Homo sapiens: one gene and its partner. The protein of the gene in region 1 purifies or fractionates together with the protein of each later gene. This does not show direct contact. Each region holds a gene or a part of one and is shown on either strand. Other genes may lie near its edges.

The links.
Region 2: the proteins of SECISBP2L (region 1) and IQUB purify together in Homo sapiens (co-immunoprecipitation; one large-scale study listed by IntAct). This does not show direct contact.

Annotation. Positions count from the first base shown.
Region 1 is NC_000015.10:49,036,228-49,040,055, reverse strand, and holds part of SECISBP2L (selenocysteine insertion sequence-binding protein 2-like), read left to right. Parts: intron 1-2,286; coding exon 2,287-2,465; intron 2,466-3,828. UniProt on the Homo sapiens protein: Binds SECIS (Sec insertion sequence) elements present on selenocysteine (Sec) protein mRNAs, but does not promote Sec incorporation into selenoproteins in vitro.
Region 2 is NC_000007.14:123,499,974-123,503,801, reverse strand, and holds part of IQUB (IQ motif and ubiquitin-like domain-containing protein), read left to right. Parts: intron 1-438; coding exon 439-600; intron 601-685; coding exon 686-858; intron 859-1,049; coding exon 1,050-1,205; intron 1,206-3,828. UniProt on the Homo sapiens protein: Adapter protein that anchors the radial spoke 1 (RS1) complex to the A microtubule of outer doublet microtubules in axonemes. The triple radial spokes (RS1, RS2 and RS3) are required to modulate beating of the sperm flagellum.

The DNA of each region.
Region 1 (3,828 bases):
GTATTGCTACCAAAGTAATTTATGAGTTGATATGTTTTGGGGGGAGAGGTCAGAAAAAGTGTTATTTTAAAATTATTTATTTATGATTATATTAGTATGGTTAAGATTGATAATTTGATGTACCCATATACCTTGCTGAAAAAAACCCCGAATGTCTACTAGCTCAGATTTATAAAACTGCTCAGTGAGTTCTCATATGTCGTAAAGAACTTTTTGTTTTTTAAAAGAAATCCTGGCCAGGCTCATGCCTATAATCCCAGCACTTTGGGAGGCTGAGGTGGGAGGATCACTTGAGCCCAGGAGTTCAAGACCAGCCTGGGAAACGTGGCAAAACCCCATCTCTACATTAAAAAGTTTGCTGGGTATGGTGATGTGCACCTGTAGTCCTGACTACTTGGGAGGCTGAGGTGGGAGGATCACTTGAGTCCAGGAGATTGAGGCTGCAATGAGCCATGATGACACCACTGCACCCCACCTCCACCTCCACCCCGTGACAGAGCGAGACCCTGTCTAAAAAAAAAAAAAAGAAAGAAAAAAAAAAGAAATCCTAAAAATTACATTTTTAGTGCAGTTAAACTGTGATTTCAGTTTCTTTTCTTATGCATGTATGTGTGAACTGTATAAAGCAAGCTTCCATTATCTTTGCATTATTGCTGTACGTCGGCTTTTCTTTTTCCTAATTGGGGAAATATTTATTGTTTTGATATATTGTGTCCTATATAAGTGAGTTTGGGTTCTAATGAATATCACAGAGTGAAAATTACTAGCTTGTATCATTAGAGTTTGAAGATATTTTTGCCTCTTATGTTAATCTTTAAGAAACCAACTTCAGTTCACTAATATTTGTATTATTATTATAGTATATCTACTTCTGATTTGGTTAATAGTACAAATGTAAACCTCAAATCAGGTAGGGAGGAAGGATACTGAATTAATACTGCTGGACAGTTCAGATTTTACCATCCCCACCCCTTCCCTTTTAACAAGCATTTATAAATATTTACAGTGAACTTTTTAGAGAAGTTAATTTTTCTGAAACAAATGAGCATATCTCATCTTCAGATTTTTTACTTGGATTCCTTACTAGCTGCTTTTGTGAGAAACATGAAATTTATTCTTACAACTATGTTTTGGTGGGAGCCTCTAATAAATATCACCCTAGTGGGTTTGTTGGGAAAAAGTTCTGGCTAGGACCATGGCTTTTAAGGTAATTTTTTACAGTAGTTAAAAACATTAGCTTGCATTTCACTTACTGGTTTCATTAAAACATGTTTCATATCATTTGATATTATAATATTTATATGATTTTTTACAGAATGTACTTAATGATTTCAAAAAATAATTTAAAATGTTAAATTTGTTGTTAACTATAACATATAGAAACTGCATAAAACCAATGTACAGCTTGATGAATTGTTACAGGACAAACACCTTGTAAATTTTATCCTGGTTAGGATATAGAACTTTGCCAGGCACCCTGGAAGCTCTCCAGATTCCTCTTAATCACAACTCTCTTTGCTAAGAATAATTCCTATCCTGACTTTTATGGATTTTATTTACTTTTCTTTATAGTTTTGTTGCCCATATGTGCATCCCTAAATACTACAGGGTTTTTTTTTTTTTTATGTCTTTTAAATCTCTATAGATTTCTTGTAAGAAAAGATACAAAGTAAACTAAAATGGATTACATATCTTGGATTACTTTAGTTTACTCACATGTGTACTGGGAAACTGAAGTACTCATATTTTCCCCAGTTTAACTGTGCAGATTTTTTCTTGTTAATGTTAAGTATTTTTTCATCTTAGACATTTTTTCTTTTAATGATACTGATCTAATTTCCAGAAATGGACAGAAATAGACAACTTTTAAGACTATTCAAACAAATATAGAGTAATAATTATCCTTCATAATTTTGTTCAATTTTTCCCCCAACAAAATGAGTTAAAAACACATTGTTTTGTCTGAAGAGCTACATCTCTTACTACCAACTTTATTTTTAGAACCTGAGGTATAACTTCTGTGTTCTCTTGATTGTTTTAACAGCTTTAATTACATTGAAATGTAACATTTGGTTTATTTTCCTTATTTGATGGCTTTGTCTAAATAACTTGATCATTATTCAGTTATTTTAAAATTGACATTGCTCTTCCTTTTGGATGTTTTATGAATGCTGAGAAGAGACCTAATTACTGTTTATAAGGACTGACTCTTCTGTTGTTAAATTTTGAATTTGTAGGAAGTTGCTTGCTCATTTGTTATTAATGTATTCTACTTTCTCTTTGAAGAATGTCAAGCTGTCAGCTGAGGTGGAGCCATTTATTCCCCAGAAGAAGAGTCCTGATACATTTATGATCCCTATGGCTCTCCCAAATGATAATGGAAGTGTTTCTGGTGTGGAACCAACTCCAATTCCCAGCTACCTGATTACTTGTTACCCATTTGTGCAGGAAAACCAGTCCAATAGGTAATTTGTTTATTTTTATTTTCTTTTTTGTGGGGGTGGCTATAAAAGCTGGCAAAGTGCACTTAATATTTTTCCTTTGCAACTTTTAGACTTTAACCATTTCTCTATTAAGAGGAGTAAATAAAATGATACTGAAATTTGGAAATTGTTGATATGGATTAGTTTCTCATTTTTTCTAAGAGAAAATTGAATTCTTAGGCTATGTCTCCTTCAGTAAGTCATTGAAATTTATTTGAAGTAAGTCAGCTCAAAGGGAGAAATAAAATATTCAGAGGTGAACAAAAACCTTTTTTTTTTTTTTTTTTTTTTTTTTTTTTTGAGATTGAACATCTAATCTCATAGTTGCCAAGATAGTCTCTGGTGTAAAAGAAAATACCAAGCAATAGTCCTTAACTTTGAAGCTGTCATGGTTAGCATATATTAGTATTTCTAGACTCAGATTTTAGTTTAAATTTATGTCTGTGCTATAGTTACAGGATGATTTAGCAAAATTGCCCGCAATTAGGTCATGTGTAACCTAGTGGTTAGGGTGTTACTTATGATAGTCGTGATAGCCATTCTAACCCTGCTTATACTGTCTGAGTGATTAGCACTTCATTGGTATAGTTTATTTTATGGCTGTATAAAAGTACTTTCAGCCTTTTTCAAGTTATGTCACACAGAAAATTTCGTTTTTCTAGGACTGTAAATGGATGAGGCAGCTGTTAACTGGCTATAGGCTCTGTCATTCCTGAGGGCTGAGTCAATCAATATTTCCACCCATCTATAAACCACTGTTGCACATTAGTGTGCCAGTGCACATTCTTTGAGAAATTGTGGATGTATGGTATATAAGGCCATTCAACTACTCAAATATTAAATGTTCAAGTTAATATTCTGAGGCTGTTAATCAAGAGTCTTGAGGGTTAGACAAATAGTAGAAACTAAGGAATCATTTTCAATTGAAGTTAGCATGATATTAAATATCTTTGCCTATATTGGATAATGTGCAAACTGATTCATGAAACTAAATTTAATAATACTATTTTTCTATTTGAAAAAATGGCCAAGTATACAGTATGATAAACTTAATTGATTTTCTTGGTTTACCAAATAATCTTTGTGAATTTATGAGTAAACAAGCCAACAGATTATTTAAAAAATATTTTTAAGAATATGGCCGTGAACATTTTACTATTTTGCTTTGTCATGGGAGTAATGAGGAAAAGCCCTATGCTTCAACTCCCTAGTCCTTAGGACCCCATATTGATTTGGTGAGGGGGCTGCTGGGACAGGAAGAATTTTGCTAGTGTTTTATATGAACTGCATTAGAAGAAGCTCCACTCCTGAAGATGTCAGTGGACAGATTTGCCTCTTCTCTTCT
Region 2 (3,828 bases), on another chromosome or scaffold:
GGTAGAAACTATTAATACTATATTTAATAATTAAACGATATGTGTTCCTATGAGTAAATATATTAATAGTATATTTAATAATTAAATGATATGTGTTCAAAGTTTCAAAGTTCACCTTTGATATTTTCCATCTCCTTAAAATGAGAATGTGTAATTAGCCATTTCTAGAAATGGTGACTATAGTTAATAATAATATATTACATATTTGAAAATTGCTAAGAAAATAGATATTAAGTGTTCTTACCACAAAATGATAAGTATATGAGGTAATGGACATGTTAATAGCTGTATTAAGCTACTTCACAATGTATACATAGTTCAAAGCATGCTGTACACAATATATACAATTTTTATTTGTCAATTAAAAACAAAAAATAAGATCAATGAATAGCCATTTCTTTGTCATAAAACTTTTAAAAATTTTATTTCAATTTTTAGGAAAAATTCTTAAAAATAATGAGACTCTAGTACAACATGGAGTTAAGCCACAGGAAATTGTACAAGTGGAAATCTTTTCTACAAATCCAGATCTGTATCCAGTCAGAAGAATAGATGGATTAACTGATGTCTCTCAAATCATAACTGTCACTGTCCAAACTGGTTCGTTATTTGATGTCTTTTAGATAAAGTATTTTTGAGTCCCTTCTTGGTTGAGCTTTCATTGAATCTTGGTGTTATCTCTCAGGACTTGATCAATACCAGCAGGTACCTGTTGAGATTGTCAAATCTGACTTTCACAAACCATTTCTTGGTGGATTCAGACATAAAGTAACAGGAGTAGAGTATCACAATGCTGGAACACAAACTGTACCTAAAAGGATTCCCGAAAGACTCAGTATATTTTGTAGGGATACGCAGGTAATGTTTTTATTTGTCTCTTTAGGTTTTTGAAGGTATAGACTCAATAATTGTACTGTATGACTCTCTCAAATTTCTCTTAAGTAATTATATGGCAATTAATAAAAGAAAATGAACTCACATATGTAGAAAAACTCCCTTATGTATATATATAGGGGATACTGATTTAAATTTTTAATGTTTTCTTTTAGACAGTTTTTCAGAAAAAAAATCTCCAACAAACTACAAATACAACATCCACACAGATGACTAACATTGGTGTATATGTATCAAATATGACTGATAAACTGGTAACACCAGGAAAGTATTTTTCAGCAGCAGAATACCATGCTCAAAGACTAAAGGCGGTGAGATAACTTTTATTGTGGATGAATACTAAAAATTTGATATATAAGCCAGTTGTTCCGAGTGTGTCTCTTTCTCCAAGCCACATTTGCTTGAGAAAGAATGCTCATGAGTATGGGTCATATTTCACTGCTAACAAAGCAGTCTTTATCTCCAGTATTCCCCCATGTAAAGAACCAGCATCCTAAATGCTCCTAATCCTTCCTTTTCTCTTAGGGAAACCCAGCTTCTTTGTGTATTGCCTTTGGCCATTATTAGCCTTCTCAACACTGCTGTCCCTTGGCCTTAAATCTTGTCACAGTAGAATCACCAAGGGAACTTTCGAGACTAATTGAAACCAAATAGGACAGTAGTCGATTTTCTCTGATATTAACATAGCCGCTCCAACTCTGTTTTATTTTTTTGCATAGTCTCTCATTTTTCATTCTTTTACTTTCAACCTATTTGATCTACCTCCTACCATCAATTTACTGTGAGTAAAAATGACCTGAAAGCAGTGACTTTAAGAGATTTTGCTTTTCAAATGACAAGAAATCTGGAGCTAGGCTATTCAGCCCAAGACCTTTAGAGACAAACTTGTAGTGAAAAAAAGTTAAGTCTGTTGACTTAATTGCCCTGAAGGAGACAGTATACCAGGGGAACCATGGGGTTAACTTTATAGCAGGCTTTATCAGTGCCAGTTATTCCAGCCTGATAATTTTTTACTTTTTCAGTCCAAACTAAATTTCACCAAATAAAGGAATATATGGAGTTATTATATAATTTGGGGAAGAGTGAAGTTTGAGTGGGATTTAGGGGAAGCAGTATTCTGATTGTCTCAATGCAAAACAAGGGTGTGTATAAATGGGCCAACATTAGGTCTGGACTGTGAAGTAGACCAAGGTCACGTTCCTTTGGAAACAAAGTTAAAAGAGATGGGAAATGTTTCTTAGAAGTTCTCTGAAGTTCAGCACCTTGGTTGTATAATTGAGGCTGCTTCTCTCTGTCAAAGTGACGTGCAACCTCTAGGCAAGAGTGGAATGTTTGTTTCTTACTGATCTAATTTCAGACAGGAAAGTTTCTGATAGTTTCTGAATTTAGAGAACGAAGTTTCTCAGTGAGTAAGAAGATAGCAGTCACTAAAAGAAGGGGATTGTTGAAATATTTTATAGTTGTAGAGTGTCCTTGGGAGAAATACTGTTTTTGTTAATTTTGTAGCTGACCTGATTAGTGCCTGTTATTCCAGCCTGACAATTTTTTACTTTCTCAGTCTTAATTAATTTTTACTTTCTTACTATACTGGGCATGGGTGGTGACTCTATGATGTCATCAGAATCATAAACTCCTTTCATCTTTCTACTCCATTAAGCTCATCATGAGCTTGTTACTGTATGAAGATAAAATGGTTGACTAACTTTCATCATGCCTGCATTCCATGTGAGAAGAAGGGAAAAGTCAAGGCAGCATGTTCCATGAATGCCACCTTCAAGGATTTCCCCGGAAAGCCCCACCCAGTGACTTCTACTTGCATCCCATTGGCTTGAACTATGTCATGTGACTATCCCTACTGCAAAAGTGTGTGATAAATGAATTTTTAAAGTAGCATATCATTGCTCCTCAATGAGATTGCAATCTTAGTAAGAGAAAGTAGGGCAAAATGGATATTAAGTAAGGAAATGGAAATTTCTGTCATTTTCCAAACTCCAAAAAATGATATTGAAAGAATAAAAGTATAAATATACAAGGACAAAGAATACATGAGAAGAGTAAATGTGAGTTGTGTTTTTTTTTTGAAGTTTTAAAGCAGATGGAAAAGTGTTAACTTGACTTAGTAGAGCAGAGGAAGTGAAAATCTAAATGCTGCCAACGAGGATGGCATCAAGAACCAAATAGATTTGCCCCATAGAGTCTTGAAAGGTGAATTGGAGGTTCTGTGGGAGGTGGAAGTGAGGTGTGACCTGTTAACAGAGGAATTTGTTAAAAGCCGGTATAGGGAGTACATTTCCGTTTAATAAGTTCTTTTAACCTTGATTCCTTTCTACTTGGGTCATGTTTATTTTATTTTTTTAATAGGTTTTGAGTTCACTGCTTACTATTTTAAATCTTTCTTGTTTCAAGAAAGATGATATTTTGCGTGACTACTGATATTTTTGGACTCATTCTTGCTATTTCATTTTGTTTTATTTACTAATTATTCTTATTTGTTTATGCTTTTTTTAGCCTTTTCTTTTTGTTGGTTTGAATAAATGTTTCTTTTTTTGTTCTTTCATAGTTCAGAAATAAGTATTTTGTTTTTTCTAGTGGTTATGTTACAGAAAAGTGGTCCCGATCCAGACCCCAAGAGAGGGTTCTTGGATCTCCCACAAGAACTAATTCAGGGCAAGTCCATAGAATAAAGTAAAAGCAAGTTTATTAAGAAAGTAAAGGAACAAAAGAATGGCTACTCCACAGACAGAGCAGACCTGAGGGTTGCCTGGTGCTGGTTGCCCATTTTTATGGTTATTTCTTGATGATATGCTAAACAAGGGGTGGATTATTCATGCCTCCCCTTTTTAGACCATATAGGGTAACTTCCTGATATTGCCATGGCATTTGTAAACTGTCTTGGCGCTGGTGGGAGTGTAGCAGTGAGGATGACCAGAGGTC